Regions from separate parts of the Homo sapiens genome. Here regions 1, 2 and 3 are each linked to region 4. The links come from fine-mapping of genetic effects on gene expression. A gene starts in region 4. Each other region holds a variant in brackets. All regions are shown on one strand. Distances are from middle to middle.

Region 1 (5,134 bases), 65 kb before region 4:
AGTGCAGGCTCCGGGGGTGCTGCTGTGAGGATAGTGTTACTGCTCGGCCCCACCCTGCCTCACATTCCCACCCCACGTGGGCCCCACTGGGGCACCACAGCCCTGCCCTATTCCTGGACACCGAGCCGTTTATGGTGAAGCCCCCACACGCACAGAGGGCAGGCAGCGCCCCCTCCGTCAGATCTCAGGGCTGCCGGCCCTCAAGCACCCAGCAGGAACCCCAGGTTCAAGGGGATCCACGCGGAGCAAAGGGGAGGGTCCTGCCCCGTCCTGAGCCAGATCCAGTGTCACCGTCTCCCCCCGGGTGTCAAAAGCGTGACCGTGTCAGGAAAGGCATCTGAGAAAAGCGCCATCTGCCACTGGCTGGACTGACTGTGCACACGCGTTCTCCCTCAGTCTTGATTTTTGGACTTCCAAATCTAGAGCATCATAATGTTTGACACGAAATCATGTCATATGAAATGCTTAAATCCTTTTTCCACTTAATATCATACACATTTCTCAGGGGTAACCTTATGCAGGCATCACAGGGGCCATTTCCAGTGACTGCCGGCCGCGTCTGCCGGCCCTTTTTGGTCTATCCGGACAGAAGCAGTTACAGCTCCATGCATTTCCAGTGAATCTCAAACTATACCAGTAACGTCTCTTACAAGACAGAGGAGACTTGCTGGGAATGGTAGTACTGGCCTGGCTCACTCTGCAGCGACTCTGCTGGGCTCAGGCTTGCAGATCTCCGGGTCTGTGCAGCCTCCATGCAAGGGGCCACGTGGAGCCGGGAAACCTTCCCGGGGAGAGCAGAGGCCGGTGCCCTTGTGAAGCCCCGATGGCCAACATGTGCCTAGCCTCCTGTCAGGAGCTTCCTTTTTTTTTTTTTTTTTTTTTTTTGAGACGGAGTTTCGCCTTTGTTGCCCACACTGGAGTACAATGGCACGATCTTGGCTCCACCTCCCAGGTTCATACCACAACCTCCGCCTCCCAGGTTCAAGCGATTCTCCTGCCTCAGCCTCCCGAGTAGATGGGATTACAGGCATGCACCACCACACCCAGCTAATTTTGCATTTTTAGTAGAGATGGGGTTTCTCCATGTTGGTCAGGTTGGTCTCGAACTCCCGACCTTAGGTGATCCACCCACCTCAGCCTCCCAAATTGCTAGGATTACAGGCGTGAGCCACCACGCCCGACTGGGAGCTTCCATTTTAAAGAACACCATCATCTCTCCCTTCACAGGTTATGGGAAGACCGGCAAACAGGAGACTTTTTGTTGTTACTTTTTGATTCTGTTGCAATATTTTTGTTACTTTTTCTGATTTTGTGTGTTTCGGTGCCATAAATGGTTGTTGAGAACTGATGTGGCGGGTACCAGCTAGGGACAGGCAGGACAGGCGATGTGGGTTTCAGGCGTACACAGCCCCGTGGGAAAGAGACAGGGAAACCAGCACAATTCACTCTGACCCCAACCTTGGCCTGCAGTGCGAGGCGCCCAGTCACAAATGTGTACACACAGTGATTTGGGGTCCTTTTTCCTAAAACAGCTTCTTTATCAGGACTTTGGAATTCTGGGTGAGATAGAAACACTGAAAACAGGGCGGAAGTTTTTTCTTCTGGCTTCTTAGTCCACGGAGGGCTCAGCGTGGAGAGGATATGCCGTGGCATTCTCCCTGGGAGACCACACATGTTCCCGACAGCTCAGACCCCAGACCGCATGTGCTCCTGACAGCTCAGACCCCAGACCGCGCGTGCTCCTGACAGCTCAGACCCCAGACCGCAGGTGCTCCCGACAGCTCAGACCCCAGACCGCGGGTGCTCCTGACAGCTCAGACCCCAGACCGCGCGTGCTCCCGACAGCTCAGACCCCAGACCGCGGGTGCTCCTGACAGCTCAGACCCCAGACCGCGCGTGCTCCCGACAGCTCAGACCCCAGACCGCGGGTGCTCCTGACAGCTCAGACCCCAGACCACGCGTGCTCCCGACAGCTCAGACCCCAGACCACGGTGCTCCTGACAGCTCAGAACTCAGACCGCGGGTGCTCCTGACAGCTCAGACCCCAGACCGCGCGTGCTCCTGACAGCTCAGACCCCAGACCACCGTGCTCATGACAGCTCCTGTCCGCATGCTATCTTAAACTCTCAGCCCCCACTGGGCCCTGTGCTGCTACCTGAAAGCTGCAGGTGAGATGCGAGGCACGAGGCCACGCACGCTCTGAGGAAGGAGCTGTCAGGCGCTCCTGAAACAAGAGGACATCGGAGGGAGGCAGGGACAGGCCTGCGTCCCATGGTGCACAGCCTGTGGCCCCTCAGACGGGCCTGTGTGGCCTGGTGGTCACCTACAGGGCATTTGGAAGTGGGGTACTGGTGTGGCCAGGGAGAAACAGCCTGGGGGTCCCCGGTGCCTCTGGGCTCCGGGCCAAGATCTGAACCAGTCTGTTGAGTTTTCCATCACGTCCCAGATCCGGGGCTGTCTGCACAGCTTCCCACCCCGGCTGGGACTGCATCTCTCGAGGCCCTGCTCCGACCTCACTGTGGCCTCTCCACCGTGCATACCACCCTATAATGCACCGCTTTCATTGCAGTGCGGACCCCTCTGGACGTCGGGACTGAATCAACCTGGGAAGTAGAAGTCGTGGCTCACATCCGCCCAGCCGCAGACACAGGCGTGCTGTTTGCGCTCTGGGCCCCCGACCTCCGTGCCGTGCCTCTCTCTGTGGCACTGGTAGACTATCACTCCACGAAGAAACTCAAGAAGCAGGTAGGGCCTCCGCCACCCAGGGCGTCCTGACCGGCTCGACCCACGGGTACGTGGGCTGCACTCCCTGGCAGGGGACGAAGGGGGCCCGCGGTGGGATCCCCAGGGACCCCCAAAGCCTCTGACCAGAGGTCTGATGAGCCAAGCCCGGCGTGGGCCACGCTTCGGGCTGCGGGGGTTGTTTGGACACCAGGTCACCGCCACACAGCTGAGGGGGCCGGCGCCTGCGAGCCACACTCGGC[T/C]CACAGTGTGGGAGCTTTTCCCCTGTTCGGTTGGGCAGATGGTGGCTCACAGCAATCTGAATTAGTCTCTGGTGTTTAAGTCAGATGATTTCAGCAACAAACTCAGTTTTCCAATTTCCCTGGAAAAGTCGGATCTGTGACCTTGGCCGGTCCCCCAACAGCGTCTTTCCGTGGGGGACACCGGGTGGAGCTGAGTGCAGCTGCCCCTTGGACAAGGTCCCCCCACCCCCGGTCCTCACAATAAGTCAGCTGTCCTGGGCTGGGGGACTCATGCTGTTTTCCCCACAGAACAATCAAGAGGTGACAGAAACAGCTTTTATTCTCTCGCTCGTGTGCTAAGGAGGGAGACATGGGTCAAACCAGAGAGGCTCACGTTCTCCAAGTCTGCCCACCCCGGGGCCACAGAGCCCTCCCGCTTGCTGGGATACGACAGACAGGCTTGGTTCATGCAAATGCTCGTTACCAGGGCCAGACCCAATCTCAGCATCTGGAATAAACAGCTGCTGTTATGTAGCAACAGCCGACCCCTGGGCTGCTGGGCTGTGGTGCCAGCGTGAGTGCCCACCGGGCTGGGAGGCCGCCACCGCAGGGCTGGGTCCTGGGTCCCCATCAGGGCCACCCCAGTTCCTGGTCAAGTGCAGCCTCGGTCTTGTGTGTGCCTGGTGCCTGGGGCTGGGGTTGACCCTCTCACACCCAACCTGGGGGCCACACTTGTTCCCCCACAGCCTCCCAGGCTGGCCCCTGGCTTTACGTGCAGAGAAGCTGAGCCCCAGGTGGGGTGGGGGTGTCATCCACAGTCAGCGAGCATCCAGACCCAGGGCTGCAGGGAACCCTGGACGGAGACAGGCGTGCGGCGTAGGGGTGGCCAGCAGCTGTGAGGACCAGCTTGGACCTAACAGCTCACGTAGGGGTGGCCGGCAGGCCCTGACCACACCTCGGTCTCCTGCAGCTGGTGGTCCTGGCCGTGGAGCATACGGCCTTGGCCCTAATGGAGATCAAGGTCTGCGACGGCCAAGAGCACGTGGTCACCGTCTCGCTGAGGGACGGTGAGGCCACCCTGGAGGTGGACGGCACCAGGGGCCAGAGCGAGGTGAGCGCCGCGCAGCTGCAGGAGAGGCTGGCCGTGCTCGAGAGGCACCTGCGGAGCCCCGTGCTCACCTTTGCTGGCGGCCTGCCAGGTAGGTGCTCCCTGCTCCGCTCAACCCGGGTGAAGAGCTCCAGGGAGGCCCAGCTTGGTCACCCCAGATCTAACCTGGACAGGCTGGGGTTTCTGGTAGTGAATGCGGAAGAGGACTTGTGTTTTAAGAGGAAGGAGAAGTCCAGGTGGGTCGTTAGTGGCTATTATGGTGTCTCGGTGCTGGTCAGGTCATTGGCTGAGACTGAGAAACACGTACGGGGGCCGGCATTGGCCTGAGTCAGGCCCCACGAACCTGCATCTTCAGGGAGCATTCGTCCACACCCATCAGACCAGCCCCGGGGGAGAGGGCTGGGCAGACCTCGGGCCAGGCTGCAGTTGGGACCCGCGGCTGTCACCGCAGCTGTTAGCAGCGAACAGAGTGACCGCCAGCCCCTCCCATGTCCAGCAGGGCGTCCTGCCGTGTCCCATGGGCTACACAGCACAGAGGCTGGGACCGGGGATGTCCTTGCCATGAGCTGGGAGGGTCAGCGGAAAGGCACGTGGGAGCCGGCAAGTCCTCGGCTGCCCGCAGGTTTTCACTTGCGGCAAACGGCAGGATTTCTCTCTTGGCTGCCAGACACAGACTCCACTTAGTTTTAATAAACAGAGCTTTGAAGAGGATGAGAGCGAGCCAGGAGGCCTGCAGCCTGAATGACTCACTGGGCACAGAAGAAGATCACGTTTAACCGATGGGACTGTCTGTGCTCCCAGCGGGGAAGGGAGGGCTGGCGTCTGCAGAGCCCAGGCTGGCAGATGCCTCCTGCTTGTCTGCCGGGTCTGCGGCCAAACGAACGGGGACCGAGAAGTTAGAGAAGAAAGGGAAACCCTGCCCTTTCGGAGGGAACCCGGGGCTGGCCACAAGCGCTGCCGGGGGTGGGGGGGCCAGGCGGGGCCGGCCACGTGGTGAGCTAAGATATGTTGTTCTCTCCCTGCGGCCCAGATGTGCCGGTGACTTCAGCGCCAGTCACCGCGT
Region 2 (5,134 bases), 43 kb before region 4:
TGGTTTCCTTCTCTCCGGGCCCCAAAGTCTGCTTTTTCGGCACAGAAGGGTGCAGGTGGGGAGGGCCCTCTCAGCACCGGGCTGATGGCTCTCGCTTCCCCAAGCCTGTGCCCCAACCAGCGTGGGGTTTCTGGGGAATGCGAACAAAACCAAAGTCTCCTGAGCTCCCGTCCACACTTTCACTGACTCACTCAGGCAGTTAAAATTCTCCAAAGAAGGTGCTGGCTCCAACTCAGGCCCCGGCCGGCCTCATCCCCTACAGAGGGAGGGGCCCATGGCTCACACAAGCTTCAGGGCTTCCCCGGGCCAGAAACGCGGGGACTGGGCCGAGGGCACCCGGGCTTCGCCTCCCTCCCCACCTTCACACAGGTGCCCCTCCACCTTCCCCAGCCCCCACCCCCAGGTTCAGCAGCACCCTGGAGGAAGCCAGGGGAAGATGGCAAAGGCGGGGAAGCCAGGCCAGAGCCGCTGCGAGGGGCTGGCCACGGTGACGACCCGGGGACACGGTGACAACCCGGGGACACGGTGAAAACCCCGGGACAGGGTGATGACCCCAGGCCTGAGGTGTCCTCAGACAACGGTGCTGCCCGCACCCCTGGGGCTGGGAGGGAGCCCCCTGCCCAGCGGGCACTGGAAGGTGGGAAGGGGCAGGGCCTTCTGGGCAGCTGGTCCTTGGTCCACATGTGCAGGAGGCCGTGCTTCTGCCTCAGACCCTGCAGAGAGCAGGGGGGCAGCCGAGGTGGGCCTGGGAGGTTGGATGGGCATGGAGGGTCGTGCTCCGTGAGGGAGGGGCAGGAGATTTGCAGTTCTGACAGGTAGAGGGGTGGGGAGGCCTCTGAGCTGGCGGTGGCCTGAGGATGGGGCCGGGGCGAGTGCACAGAAAGCAGAGAACACGGGGGCCACGGAGTCACACGCGGAGGAGGCCCCTGAGAGGCTGGCTCAGCCGCCCGCCCTTGCCGGCACGTTAAGTGCCTCCCACGCACCCATCACAAGTAATTTGCCCTCGTCTACGAAGGGCACGTCCAGCTTGGAATGTTAAGGAATGAAGGAAGCATCTTCATTCCTTAACAAAATGTTTAAATGGCAAAATCAGTTAAACTCACAAGAGGGCCTGCTTGGTGGGTGTGAAGGTTAGCAAGTCCTCTCCTTGCTCTGCAGCCCTGAGCTTTGGGTTCGAGGAAGACTTCCTGGAGCCGGTGTGGCTCTGCATTGCGGGCTGGCCCTGGAGGTATCACCTGTTCCTGATCCTGCACTCCAGCATTTTATCACGGGCTTTAATGAACACACGAGCCCCTTCCGGAAAACCCTGGACACCCCGGGCCTGTGTGGCGAGCATGGCGCCTGCACCAGACAAGCGTTTCTGTGTCCTGTCTACAATCCGGCTGCAGTTCCTCCTGGGACGGCCGCTGAGAGGAGACACTGAGCTGCCGAGGCAGAGAAGCTTGCACCGAGGAGACGCCAAAGGCGCCCGGAGCCCGCGAGATCCCGGCAGAGACCCTTCCCGACCCCAGACTCCCGCTCCCACCGCAGGGGCCGGCCGGCTGTCACCACAGAGCAAGGACCCCTGGGAGGTGCCTGTCTTGTGTTGGTGTGCGGGCGTCTGGGGGCCCAGGGTGGGGCTTGGGGGGCCACTGGGTGGGGAGCCAGAGGGCTGGACCTCGGGATGCCAGGGTCACTCTCAGCTTCACCAGTTTTGTCTGGAAGCACAAAAGTGTTGAGAAAAGGAGGAGCTGAGAAGCAGATGGCAGGAGGGTTCCCAGCTGAGCTAATTTTTAGTCATGGACAGCCTCTGGGACGAATAGGGCATGGAGAAGCCGCTCAGGAGTGTTTTCGCTGCCTCGCTGGGCCGGGTCTGGCCTGCATGATGTGCGTCTGCCTGGTGCTGCCAGGCCTCCTCATGTGGGTGCAAGAGGGGGCGCCCCTCGTCCCTGGGCTGCCGTTTGGATACTCTGGGGGTTGGGGCTCCCTCACTCCTGGCTGCCCATCCCTTACAGCTTCTCTGCAAGTTCAGGGGGCGGGGTTTGCTGGCCGCACACCACGAGAACATCTGGTTTGAAACAGGCGCCAGGAGAGGGCAGAGGAGGGAGAAGAGAGAGGACATCCGGCCCGGGCCAGTGATTTCCCTGTGGTTTCCCGGGCGAGGGCCGGCCTTTCCAGGATGGGTCCAGCCCACCTCCCGCGAGGGGCCCCTTCCCTCCCTCCTCCTGCCCAGGCCAATCCTGGCTGTATGGGTCTCGCCTCTGGGGTTTGCTAAGGCATCAGCTCAGCCCCAGCCCAGACCTGCCCATCTGAAGCCCCAGGCAGTTGCTAATGATGGGAGCTTAGTGCACAAGGGCTGGGCCTCCCTCTTGGAGCTGAACATTGTTTCTTGGGGACGGCTGTGCCCACCTCAGCGGGGAGGCAAGGATTAAATCAGGTGATTCTTGTGACAGGCTTGGGACAGGACGGCCCCGAGGTGAGTCGGTGCACGCCAGCTGTCACCCTGACACCCTGCTGACAGACGCATGGGCTTCAGTGCCCCATCTGTAAAGTGAGGGCTGGAGGCCCCCCAGCCCACCCCGGGGAAATGGACCCGGAGCCCCGGCTCCCAGTGAGCAGCGGGGGTCCCACCAAGGGGCCTCACCATGTCCTTGAAGGCCCCCAGGACGGCGGCGGTGATGATGCCCAGGAACAGGCCCAGGACGTTCAGAACTGCAGAGGCCCAGAGCAGGCGGTACAGGTGCAGCACGTCCTGGCAGCCGCTGA[C/T]GCCGATGAACTCATAGTAGGCGGGCGAGGGCTCTGCGCTGCACAGAGAGGGCACCATGGCGTCACCGCACGAGGCAAGTGACCACCCGCAAGTTAAACTTGTGTCCTCTGGACCTGAGCCCTGCAGGGCTGGGGGAGGAAATCAGGGCTGGAGCCCAGTCAACGCCCATCCCTGCACTGCTCTGGGAGATCAAACCTATGTCTGATGGGATTGGCCTGTGAGGCTCCCCACCTGGGGCCCACAGTGGCAAAGAGCGGCAACTGGGCCTGGCGGGCCCGCCCCTCCGCCTCGATGGCCTGGCAGGACGGGTGTCTGGGCCCCGGCTGAGCCATCTCTGTCTTCACGCCAGGATGGGAAGGCCGTCGGGGTCACGGGCCCCTGTCCCAAGAGGGGGCCATGCCTGGGGCCTCAGAGGCCAGGCCAGGTTTAAACTCTCGCCCGACACACACGGGCTGTGTCCTCTTGGGCAGATCAACATTTCAGAGCCTCTGTCTTTTCATCTGTGAAATGGACTCAATGTCCTTTCCTCATGTAAACATCTAAGGAGTAAAGGAGACGATGTAGGTGCAGGGGTGTGGGGGGGGTGATGTCAGGAGCAGAAGGATGGAGGCCTCACCCCTGCAGGCACATACGGGGGTTCCCAGCGCCCCTCACCTCCCTCAGGTGTAGATATAGGGGTCCCCAGCGCCCCTCACCTCCCGCAGGTGTAGATACGGGGGTCCCCAGCGCCCCTCACCTCCCGCAGGTGTAGATATGGGGGTCCCCGGTGCCCCTCACCTCCCGCAGGCATAGAGGTCACAGCAGTAACAGGTGTTGCTTCTCACCTTCAGCTGGCACTTGCCGTCCAGGGAGTGACAGGTGACCTGGGGCAGAGAGGCCTTGTCAGGTCACATGCCGGTGCCCACCACCTCACCCACCCCACCAAGGGCAGGGCTGCCTCATGGGAGCTGGGAGCGGCCACTGAGGCCCAGCCAAGCAGCTGCCTCCCCCGACTTTCCCCCGACTCCAGACACAGAGGCTTGGGGGCTCGGGGGCCAGGACCCTTCCTGCAGGAGGGGTCAGGGGCACAGGCTGGTCCCAGAGGCCGGATAATCGGGGCTCAGAGGAGAGGCCTTGCTTCTCCATGATCCCAGGAGCAGAGGGAAATATCAGGGTGCGTGGGCAGAAGGACAGAGCCCAGGAGGCCTTCGGCGTGGGGTGCACAGAAGCCTGAGAGCCCGGAGGGCGGCAGAACAGGCCCCGTCCCAGGGCGCTCTCCCCCCAGGCTTGAGCACTGGCAGCCTCAGAAGAGACACCTGCCACCTCTGTGTGACAACCTTGAAAGCCCTGGCCAGGGGACACCCCCCAACACACACACACACACACACACACACACACACACACACACAGAGGACGCCTCCCCTGACACACACACACAGGACACCTCCACACACACACACACAGGATGCCTCCCCCCCACATACACACATGGCATGCCTCCCGCCTACCCCCCCCCACACACACACACAGGACACCTCCACACACACATACACATACACACACAGGACACCTCCCCCCTAAACACACACGGGACGCCTCCTGCCTACCCCCCCCCACACACACACACATAAACACACACACACACACGATGCCTCCCGGCAGCTGCTGGAGAGTCCCAGACAAGCTGGCAGGTGCTGGCCACTGAGAGGGCCTCCAGCTCCTCCTCCTCTGACACGCGTGCTGAGGATGAGAGGCTGCGTTTAGTTAAAGCCAGGAATCCACACAGGGCAGGTGCGAGACACACAGAGAGCGCCGTCACAGAGCTGTGCCCTCCGACGGTCCTGGCGAAGGCGGCGGCCGCCCGCGGGTCATTACTCCCCGCATCTCACTCACCTGGAAAGAGAAATGAGGTCACACTGCCGCTGTCGGTGGCTCAGGGAAATCCAGAAGTTTCTCGGACACTGTAAATGTATTATCCTTGCTTCTTATTGCAATAATTAAATTAGAAAAATGCTAATTGGAAGAGCCATACAGAACTGGACACGTGCACTCTGAGACTGTTGTGATTTAATGAAGCAAGTCCAGAACTCTGACTCCAGAGTGAAATACAGCACATCGAAATGTCAAGGTCCCAAACACAGGGGGCATCAACGGTTCACCAGCTGCAGGGGTGACCCCCAGGAACTATTAGAATCAAAATATTCAGACCACGCCTATGTGCAGGGAAAACCGCGTGGGGTCGGCGGGGTTAGCTGAGCAAAACCCACATGAATCTCAGTGCTCCTGCTCACCTCTGTCTGGTAGACATCGTACAAGTACCCCACCCCACTGGAGTAAAACTGGCATCTTCCCGTGGTGAGGGGCCTCGGTTCCTAGAGAAACAGATAAACACAGATGGAATAAAACAGG
Region 3 (5,134 bases), 54 kb before region 4:
GGCAGGAGCAAGAGAAAATGAGGAAGAAGCAAAAGCGGAAATCCTGATCAACCAGTCAGATCTCGTGAGACTTACTCACTATCACGAGAATAGCACGGGAAAGACCAGCCACCATGATTCAATTACCTCCCGCTGGGTCCCTCCCACAACGCGCAGGAATTCTGGGAAATACAATTCAAGTTGAGATTTGGGTGGGGACACAGCAAAACCATATCACCCATGTCCCTTCCTCTCTCCGTGGCCGGTGACCCCATGTGGACGGACCGTCACCCATGTCCCTTCCTCTCTCCGTGGCCGGTGACCCCACGTGGACGGACCGTCACCCATGTCCCTTCCTCTCTCCGTGGCCGGTGACCCCACGTGGACGGACCGTCACCCATGTCCCTTCCTCTCTTTGTGGCCGTTGGCCCCATGTGGACGGACTGTGTCCCTCCCCCACTCAGTAGTTGCCTCTGCTTGGGAGCTCTTGTGAGCAGTGCTGCTGTGTGAAATGTAGAAACTGAGGCAGGAGGAGACTCCCTGTAACCCAAGGTCCCAAGCTAATAAGGTGGGGCCAGTCTCAACGGACCCCTGCCCAGGGCAATGCTCTGACCCTGCCCTCCTCAGTCACAACCTGCAGCTACACTAGGCCCCCACCTCTGAGCTGCAGGAGAAGCCTGTCTCCTGTGCTGTCCCAGTGAGGCAGGGAGTGCAGGTGGGGCCACAGCACCCCAAACCCCCCAGCACCCCCTGCCCCGGGGCCACAGCACCCCCAAACCCCCCAGCACCCCCTGCCCCACCATCCCCTCCACCCCATCTCCCGCGGCCTCCAGGGTCTCACTGACCTCGGCTGTGCATGGGAACCAAGTGAGGGCGGGATTGGGAGCCCATCCCTGCAGAGGAGGCTGGGATCAGAAGGCCCCAGCGGAGCCCAGAGAGGGGGTTCATCAGACCGTGACTCAGGCTGGCAGAGCTTGGTGGCCCCAGACAGGATCCGTCCACATGAGACAGGTGCACCTCGAGAGCAGCCGCCGCCCACACTGCAGGCCAGGCATTGGCCGGAGCCCTGCGCCAGGTGGGAGCTGCCCTGGGACCTGGGGGACCCTCCAGCCACCACGAACCTTGAGTCAAATTGTTCACATTCTTTGTGGCTGGGATAAAGGATAAGGACATTTTTGTGGCAAGAACAAAACTGTTGACCTTGGAGTTGAATATTTTTGAACAGCTTTTGACTCTAGACAAGATTAAAAGTCGGGAAAGATCGATGTTGTGTTTGGGGGAAGCTGGTGAGTGCAGCCTCGGGGAAGCACTCTGATGCCCCCACACCGCACCCTGCGACCGAGGGCTGACATGAGGGGAAGGAGGGTTATTCCTGTGACTTTGCTGGCCAGAGCTCCAGGGGGCATAGACTCCCTGCCCAGACCTGCAGTTCAGCTTCTCTGCTGTTCGCACCCCTAGGACACCAAGAGGTGCTGGTGCCTGCACCAGGCAGCTTCGGGGGCACAGCCCGAGCTCCAGGGTGCCCAGGAACCGCCCACACAAGACCACGGCACCATCGGCGCCCATAGAGCCTTCCCTGAGGTAAAGTGAGAGCCCTGGGGACTCGGGAAATCCGTGGCACACTTTTCTTCCCCCACAGGCGCTCGTGAGTGCATCTCCCGGCGCTCCAGAAACCTCTTGGTCTCTGCTGCTTGTTCAGCTTCTTACTCGGAGCCAGGCACCCACAGCCCTGGAGGAACTGGGCGGTGATTTCCAGACAGGACGCCGCACCTCCGGCTCGTGCCCGACCTCCCGGACTGGTTCAAGGCCAGTCAGCCCTGAGAGGCCAAGACCACATTCTCCTGGACAGCAAGCTTGTGAGGCTGGATTTTATAAGATAAAAATGACAAGCAGTGGCGGGTTCACAGACCAGAGCTGGCTGCAGGCCTTTCAGAGGCCCGTTAGGGCCCCTGGGCCCAGCCAGCCACCGTTCATGTGTGGATGTGCGCTGTGGGCCTTCTGCCCAGGAGCGCTGGACACAGGATGAGACCCTCCGTCGGGCAGAGGGAGGCTCCCGGGCAGCGGAGGGGGCAGAGGCTGTGTGAGACCCTCCATCGGACAGAGGGAGGCTCCCGGGCAGCAGAGGGGGCAGGAGGCTGTGTCTGCACGAGTGTGGCTCCCCTCCACCTTATCTTTTTTCTCCCAGATCCAGGACTGGGCAGGGGAGAAAGTCCCCGCTCCACCTCCCAGGTGGGCACTGTTCCGTGAAGTAAGCTGGAGACCTCAGACCCACACGGGAGAAGAGCGGTACTTGTTTATCGTAGGCACGGGGGGCTTTGCAGGGAGGGACGTGAGGCCCTGAGAGCGGTGAGGCCTGGAGGCGCCAGCTTCCGAGGGGAGAGGGAGTGACTGGGGAACCGTGAGCGGCCCACAGAGCAGAGACGGCGACTTGGTGTCTTGTGGCACGTCTGGGGAGCAATGGGATCACCTCTCGCCCGCCCTCCCGCCCTGGGAGTCCCTGGTTCCCTGAGGATCTGACTTCAGGAGTTCAGAGAAAGCCTCTCCCCACATCCAACACTTTTCAAGAGACTTCGGCTACTTTGGGGTGGCGCATCCTGAACTCCTGTCACTGGGGCGCCTGTGACCCACCCGGGACCCGTGACCCACTCGGGACCCGTGACCCACCCGGGACCCGTGACCCACCCGGGGCCCGTGACCCACCCGGGACCCGTGACCCACCCGGGACCCGTGACTCACCCGGGGCCTGTGACTCACCCGGGGCCTGTGACCCACTCGGGACCTGTGACCCACCCGGGATGCCTGTGACCCACCCGGGACCTGTGACCCACTCAGGACCTGTGACCCACCTGAGACCTGTCCTGTGACCCACCCGGGGCCTGTGACCCACCCGGGACCTGCTGCTTCCCAGGCGTGCTCACCCGTCTCCCCAGGTGTGCCCGGCAGGTGCATGCTGGGCCCGC[G/A]GGGAGCTAAGCTGGTTTCCACAGGGAGTGCTGCGGCCCCAGACCCTGAGCCAAAGGACCCCGAAACACCGTCCCCCACCATCCCAGCGGCCAGGGGTCCTGAGACAAGGTGCGGTGAGGGAGAAGCCGCGGAAGGACAGCGGAAGCCCAGGCGCCGTAGCTGGGAGACAGCTCAGGGGAAGACCCTCGTGCCAGTGGCCCAGGCAGATTTGCATCCGGGGCTGGGAAAGACAACCGGGCCCCTGGATTCTAACAACTCACAGGCGGTTAGACACAGCGCTGGGCGTTGGAGCCGAAGCGTCCTTCCCTTCCTGGCATACGTCAGGAGCACAGCACGAGGGGCGGGTGGCTTCTGCCCTGCGCTTCTCCAGGACACAGATGCACACACGAACGTGTAACGCACAACACATGTCCACAAACAAGAACACACAGGCAGGGAGGCCGGGGCTGCACTGTCTTTGCAAAATCATAATAATAGCTAATTAATTAAGGGATGTGAAAACACCAGAACAATTGCTCTCAGAGGAGGAGGCCGGGTGGGAACTTTCAGCGCCATTTGATGTGAGCAGAGCCCAAGCCAAGGTGTCACCAGCCTGGGTCTGGAGGGCCCCACTCCCTGCCTGGTTCCAGCCTCCCTCACCAGTGTGCCCAGGGAGGAAAGGAGGGGACAGACTTCTGGAACATTCTCCCGGGTTCTCTAGGAGGTTGGCCACAGAAGCGGGATTTCTAGAGGCTGCCTTTTTTTTAAAAAAAAAAACAAACAAGTTATCTTTTACTCCACGCCTCTATCAGGGTGCGTAGGGGGGTGGCTTCTCCCCCGGGGGAAAGTAGGTGGGTGCGTAGCACGGTGGAGCCTGGCCGGGAAGCCCAGAGCCAGAGCTGCTTGGAGAAGGGGGCTGCAGGTCCTCAGACGAAGCCAGGGCAGAGGAGGGCGCAACTGGGAAGCGGCTGCAGGGCTGCAATAAACAGAGAGGGCCCTGGGTTAGCAGGTGAGACCACCCCGTGCCGGACCACAGGGAAGCCTGACATATACCAGGGCCACTCACACGCTCCCCACCCACCCCGCCAACCCAGGGCCACCCGCAGACTCAGGGCCATTCACATGGGCCCCCCGCAGACCCAGGGCTATTCACACAGGCCCCCTCAGACCTAGGGCCACTCACACAGGGCCCCCCGCAGACCCAGGGCTATTCACACGGGCCCCCCACAGACCCAGGGCTATTCACACGGGCTCCCACAGACCCAGGGCCACTCTCACGCCCCTCCCCTCCCCCGGAGACCCAGGGCCACTCTTACGTCCCCCTCCCCCACCGCAGACCCAGGACCTCTCTCACCGGCCCCCACCCCACAGACCCAGGACCACTCTCACCGGCCCCCCCACAGGCCCAGGCCCACTCTCACGGGCCCCCACAGACCCAGGACCACTGTCACGGGCCCCCACCCCACAGACCCAGGACCTCTCTCACCGGCCCCCCCCACAGATCCAGGACCTCTCTCACTGGCCCCCACCCCACAGACCCAGGACCACTCTCACGGGCCCCCACCCCACAGACCCAGGGCCACCAGAAGGAGCAGCCCCAGCCCGGGGCAGAACAGGAGAGGGTGGCCGGGGCCTCACTGGCACAACCTTGGCCTCCACAGCTGCATGGGGCAGGGGGTGGACGCCCCAGGAAGGGTGTCCTCAGACCACATCCCACTTCCTCACAGCCAGCGAGCCTCTGACCTGACTCCAAAACCAACAGTTAGGGTCCACCAGGCCTGGGGCCCCTGGGCTCACCCAACTCTTCATATTTGGGAAAGGCCCCACGTATGAACCCCACACGTCCACACGTCCAGCAGCGTGTGGCTGGTTCAGTGTCACCGTGGCTGACTCAGCGGCTCACACACGCATCTGGGTGTTGCCGTGGAGGCATCTTCAGGTGTGATTGACACCCTTGCGTACAGTGCCTCAGCCCCTGGACACGGACGGCCCCTCCTCTCCACTGAAGGCGTTAAGGAAAGAGGCTGTGGTCCCCAGGAGAAGTGGACTCTGCCCCAGTGGCCTAGGCACTCCCGGGGCAGCGTCACCCTCCCTGGTCTCCAGCCTGCCCCCTCCCTGTGGTTGTGCACCTGAAGCCCACAGTCATCAGCCAGTCATTCAGAATCGATGGATTGATCTCTCTCTTCATATGTAGGTACCTGTATTCTCCCATAGG
Region 4 (5,134 bases):
CTAGTCTTCCCCAGGTGCAGCCCATCTAGGATATCTCAGAATATCACCTTGTCACTCCCCACCAGCCCCCACTTCTCCCATCCCACCTGCTCTCCCCTTCCTGGCTCCTTCCCCAGCCTTAGCTGGAGGAGCTGAACCACATGAGCCTGTGCCCACGCCAGGTCCTACCTGGAAGACACGCGAGGCTGGAGGTCAGGTTCTTCCTGCCCCTCAGACCCATTTCCTCTACTCCACAGAGCCAGGAAGGGGAATGTCACAAAGCATGGGAGGTGGCACTGCTTGGAAGGGTTCTAAGATCCGGCCTTCCTGCCAGCCGGACCTGGAACGCCCAAAAAGAAGAGTGAGTTCCATTTAATCATGTGGGGACACCAGTCATGGTGTCCAAGTAACAATCCCAGGTAAAACTGTAATCACTCAGCCGTCAATTCCTCTTTCGTCCTGATTTTACACATGCCCAGGGTAGTGAACAAAGAAGGGCAAAGCAGAAAAACCCATAATCCTACCCCCAGGTACCCCAAAGCAGAAAGACTATGGTCCACCCCCAGATACCCCAAAGCAGAAAAACCCACAATCTACCTCCAGACACACCAAAGCAGAAAGACCATAACCCACCCCCAGACACACCAAAGCAGAAAGACCATAATCCACCCCCAGGCACACCAAAGCAGAAAGACCATAATCCACCCCCAGATACCCCAAAGCAGAAAGACCATAACCCACCCCCGATACCCCAAAGCAGAAAGACCATAATCCACCCCCAGACACACCAAAGCAGAAAGACCATAATCCACCCCCAGATACCCCAAAGCAGAAAGACCATAATCCACCCCCAGATACCCCAAAGCAGAAAGACCATAACCCACCCCCAGATACCCCAAAGCAGAAAGACCATAATCCACCCCGACACACCAAAGCAGAAAGACCATAATCCAACCCCAGACACACCAATGCTTTATACATTTTAGTAAAAGACCAGCTCCAAACAAAAAGACCCATAATCCTACCCAGATACACCAATGTTTCATATACTAAAAAGACCAGCTCCAAGTATTGTTTTAAGGTTTAAAGTTCTTTGTCAGAAGAAAATCTAAGTCAGATGCTATTTTTAAACATTAAGGCATTCTAATAATGATAAAACTAGTTAATAAATAATAATAATAGTTATCATTATTAAACACCAATAGACTAATCCACATTAATACATTTGACCATAGAGCATTTTGCTTTAGATTGGAAGGCATATAGTGGTTTCTTTTAGAAAGAAGCCAAATTATTTGATTATTTTAAGTAACAGTAATTCGTCCGGTTCCGAACGATGCCGCAGTAAAAGGGTTGTGAGGTTAATCCCCAGAAGTTTGTGTTGGATTATTTCTGAGGGAGCGGCAGAGCCCCCTAGACACCACTCCATCCCTCCCTCCAGCCGTCAGGGCTTCACTTTCTAGGGAACTCTGTTTCTCTTTTGTTCTGAAATCTGCCCAGCCCTCTCCCCCTCAGGAAGACACCCGGCATCCTTCCAGTCCTGGCCACTTCCCGGCAGAGCCCCCGAGCCCGGCTTGCGAACTGGTGAACACGCAACAGGTTTCCTGTTTTCCCAGCCTTTGCCTGGCTCCGAGGCTGCAGCGGGCTTGGTCTGGGAAGTGGAAGAATTGGAGATTCCGTGAACACACCGGGGAGAAACACGAGAGAGGGGCGAGCCGAAACCAAGCAACACTGTCCAGTTCTGTGAGCGCCTCTGCACGTTCAAACAGGAAAAGGCTACCTCGCTCTTCCAAACGAAGTTTTCCCGGAAAATGGTGTAGGTTGGAATAAACGGAAGAGATGGGGAAGGAGCGCACTTTGGGGCGCCTGTTCCTCATAATAAAACGTAACAGGGAGAGAGAGGCCAAGAGGAACGGACACAGAGTCAGAGAAAGGCAAAGACTGAGGAGGCAGAGACAGAAAGAGCGAGAGAGACAGAGACAGAGACAGAGAGAGAGACAGGGAGAGAGAATGAATGAACGAACCGGTAGGACGAACGCCCGACCCCAGTGCGAAATGCAAAGTGTTCCAAAGACAGAGCTCGAAGGAGGCGGAGGGACCAGACCCCGTGCCGCGTCTCCGCGCAGGTTCCGCCCGGGCCGGCCGGGGACCTGTAGTCCCAGCCCCGGGGTCCCCACGCTCCCCCGCAGGAGCCGAGACGAGCCCCCAGCCCCGCGCTCACCTGCGGGGTCCAGCAGGCCCAGGGGCCCGGGCACCGGCGGCTGCATCCCGAGGCCCCACCCGGCTCTCCCGGGGCCACAGCCACAGTCCCGCCGCCAGGAGCCGCCCTCGCGGCGCCGCCCCTTCCCCGCCCCCTGCACCTCCCCGCGCTCCGCCCGCCTCGCGTCCTTCCTCGCTCTACTCTCCCTTCTCCGGCGTTTCTTCTCCTCCCTCCCCCGCTGCGCCCGCTCCCCCTTCTCCCCTCCAGCGGCCGCCTGGTTTCTGGAAATCAGGACGCCGCGGCCGGGAGTGGAAGCCAGACCCCAGATGGAAGGTGCCTGGAGAGGACCCTGCGGACTCGGGGTCGGAGCCCCGGCCTGGGACGGTGACCCCGGGCCTTCCGCCGCTGGCGCCACGCTCAGCCCTTGGCGGTGCCGCTGAGTGGGTCACCACGGGTTCGCCTCCCCATTGGCCGGTGACGGAGCTCCTTGGGGCTACAGGGCCAGCCAGCCCTTGATCTCTGGGTTCAGAGGGTGGTACATGGTGTTACAACCCAGTCTGCGAGGAACGAGTAAATGAGGAACAAACGCAAATGAGTAAATGAGGAACAAACGCATCTGGCACCTCACTCAGCAGCCCCGAGGCAGGGCTGACCCGCCTCTCCAAGGCCTGCGTCTTTGTGTCCACAGCACTGAAGTTGTTCTGAGTAAAATCTGCTGCTGGAAAGAAGGGCAAGGAAACACGGGGCCAGAAAGGGTGCCTCGTACAGCAGCAGGAAAAAATAAAGATCCTTCTAAACGTATTTTTAACATCTTTGAGTCAAGGACATCAGCGGTCCCGTCACAAAAGAAGATGCTTGAACGATCAATAAACTCAGCCCCCGGAATTAGGGGAACGCTGTGGGAACAAGAGGATGCGTTTCACCCTCATCCTATCAGAAAACCCCAAGGGTCAAACAACTTAAAGAATGTTAATGAAAACGTGGGAATCTGCATTCACCGCTGGGATCACGCATGGTGCCACCACTTTGAAAGCAACCTTTAGGAAAATTGAAGCAAGTAGATGACAAGCCAGAAAGAAAGCATATCTCTTTCTAGATATGCCCAAGAACACAAACATAGATCTGCTCCTTCGAGCCAGGAGCCGTGGTTCTCAACCCCGGCTGTCGTTAAAGTCATCCAGGAATGTCTTTAAAAGAAAAAACATTTCTGCAGCACTGAACCCAGACCAGATCAATTGAACCAGAACTTCTGGGAACAAACTAATAGCTAAGAATTCCCTAGTCATTCTAATAGGCCATCCACTGTGAGAGAGAAACTACCACAAGAAGTATGCATGTGCTAGAAGATGCGTACAGAATATTCCTCACAACACTGTGTGTCCAAAGCACCGGACACACCCTGAATATCCAACACGGGGAGAAGCGATAAAGAAATGGGCATATACAGCGAAATACCACATGGCAGTTAAAATAAATGAGAGCTACATGGATCAATGTGGATAAATGCCAAAAACAGAACGCGGAGCAAAAATGCAAGTGCACAGTACGGCAGCGAGTACGACAGCAAGTACGGCAGCGAGTATGGTACCATTTATATAAAGTTTTAAACCATGAAAATTAACACTGTTCACTCAGTGAGCCTCTCAAGACTTACTAAACATCCGCGATATACCAGACACTGTTCCAGGTACTTGGGATGTATCAATGAGCAACGTAAACAAGGATCCTGGTGGGGAAGTGAGGCCATGAATAATAATACAATAAACAAGAAAAATGCACAGCATGTCAGAGGGCAACATGCTATGGAATACACACACACATATACACATACACACATGCAGACATACACACATGCATGCACATACACACATACACACACATGCATATATACACATGCATACATACACACATGCATGCATGTGTGCATACATACATGCACGCATACATACATGCACATACACACATGCATACATGTGTGCATACATACACGCACACATACATACACATACATACACACATGCATACATACACACTTATACGTGCATACATGCACATATGCACATATACATACACACATGCATGCATACACACATGCACACACATACACATGCACACATACATGCACACACATGCACATACACACACATACACACTTATACATACACACACATACACACATACATACATACACAGCCAGGTAATGCAGGCCACAGAAAAAGGAAAGAGAGGTAAAGAAACAAAATAGAAAGTATAGTGTGGGAGAGGGAGGGAGCTGTGGTTTTTAAGTAGTGAAAAGAGAGCTTGTTGACAGGTGATGTTGAAGACCAAGCTTGAGGGCGTGGAGGTGGTTGCTCACCCAGACATCTGGGGCAGAGGGTCTGAGGAAAAGGAACCTCCATGCAAAGGCCCTGGGGTGGAGCCATCCAGGCCCAGGGGGAGCAGCAAGGAGACCAGGGTGCCAGAGGCTTGTGGGGACCAGGTGGAGGACATCAGGGGTGAGCCGCAGGGCCTCTGGCCTTTGCTCCGAGTGATGTGGGGGTTATTGGAGGGTCCTACACATAGGATTACTGGAGAGTAGTTGTAGGATAGCAGAATGGAAGCTGAGAAACTGGTTATAGGATATGATGAAACAGTAGGAGGTGATTACACGGACACCATGAGTCATGTTTGCAGATACACGGACACCGTGAGTCCTGTGTGCAGATACACGGACACCGTGAGTCCTGTGTGCAGATACACGGACACGTTGAGTCATGTGTGCAGATACACGGACGTGAGTCTCGTGTGCAGATACATGGACACCGTCTCGTGTGTGCAGATACATGGACACCGTGACTCATGTGTGCAGATACACGGACGTGAGTCTCGTGTGCAGATACATGGACACCGCCTTGTGTGTGCAGATACATGGACACCATGAGTCATGTGTGTGCAGATACATGGACACCGTGAGTC

What was found.
Region 1: its variant is fine-mapped to the expression of TMEM255B in whole blood (TOPMed, PIP above 0.99). The same link has a PIP of 0.9 or more in T cells.
Region 2: its variant is fine-mapped to the expression of TMEM255B in whole blood (INTERVAL, PIP above 0.99).
Region 3: its variant is fine-mapped to the expression of TMEM255B in whole blood (INTERVAL, PIP above 0.99).

Annotation. Positions count from the first base shown.
Region 1 is chr13:113,820,986-113,826,119 of GRCh38, reverse strand. GAS6 (growth arrest specific 6) reads left to right here. Exons shown (of 15, transcript NM_000820.4): 13 at 2,570-2,745; 14 at 3,934-4,162; 15 at 5,102-5,134. The region is part of intron 1 of GAS6-AS1 (GAS6 antisense RNA 1); the gene reads right to left. Among named protein-coding and RNA genes, the nearest start is that of GAS6-AS1, 7.9 kb to the right of the region's middle. RefSeq lists enhancers at 3,880-4,428, 4,978-5,134. The variant T/C (reference allele first, on the strand shown) is at 2,985.
Region 2 is chr13:113,799,302-113,804,435 of GRCh38, reverse strand. TMEM255B (transmembrane protein 255B) reads right to left here. Exons shown (of 9, transcript NM_182614.4): 5 at 5,017-5,097; 6 at 3,524-3,609; 7 at 2,624-2,783. Among named protein-coding and RNA genes, the nearest start is that of GAS6-AS1, 14 kb to the left of the region's middle. RefSeq lists enhancers at 138-696, 2,402-3,276. The variant C/T (reference allele first, on the strand shown) is at 2,746.
Region 3 is chr13:113,810,497-113,815,630 of GRCh38, reverse strand. TMEM255B (transmembrane protein 255B) reads right to left here. Exons shown (of 9, transcript NM_182614.4): 9 at 1-3,895. The coding sequence ends at 3,728. GAS6-AS1 (GAS6 antisense RNA 1) reads right to left here and starts at 21. Exons shown (of 5, transcript NR_044995.2): 1 at 1-21. RefSeq lists enhancers at 1-17, 68-137. The variant G/A (reference allele first, on the strand shown) is at 2,940.
Region 4 is chr13:113,756,382-113,761,515 of GRCh38, reverse strand. TMEM255B (transmembrane protein 255B) reads right to left here and starts at 2,290. Exons shown (of 9, transcript NM_182614.4): 1 at 2,201-2,290. The coding sequence starts at 2,246. RefSeq lists enhancers at 1,571-2,072, 2,629-3,130.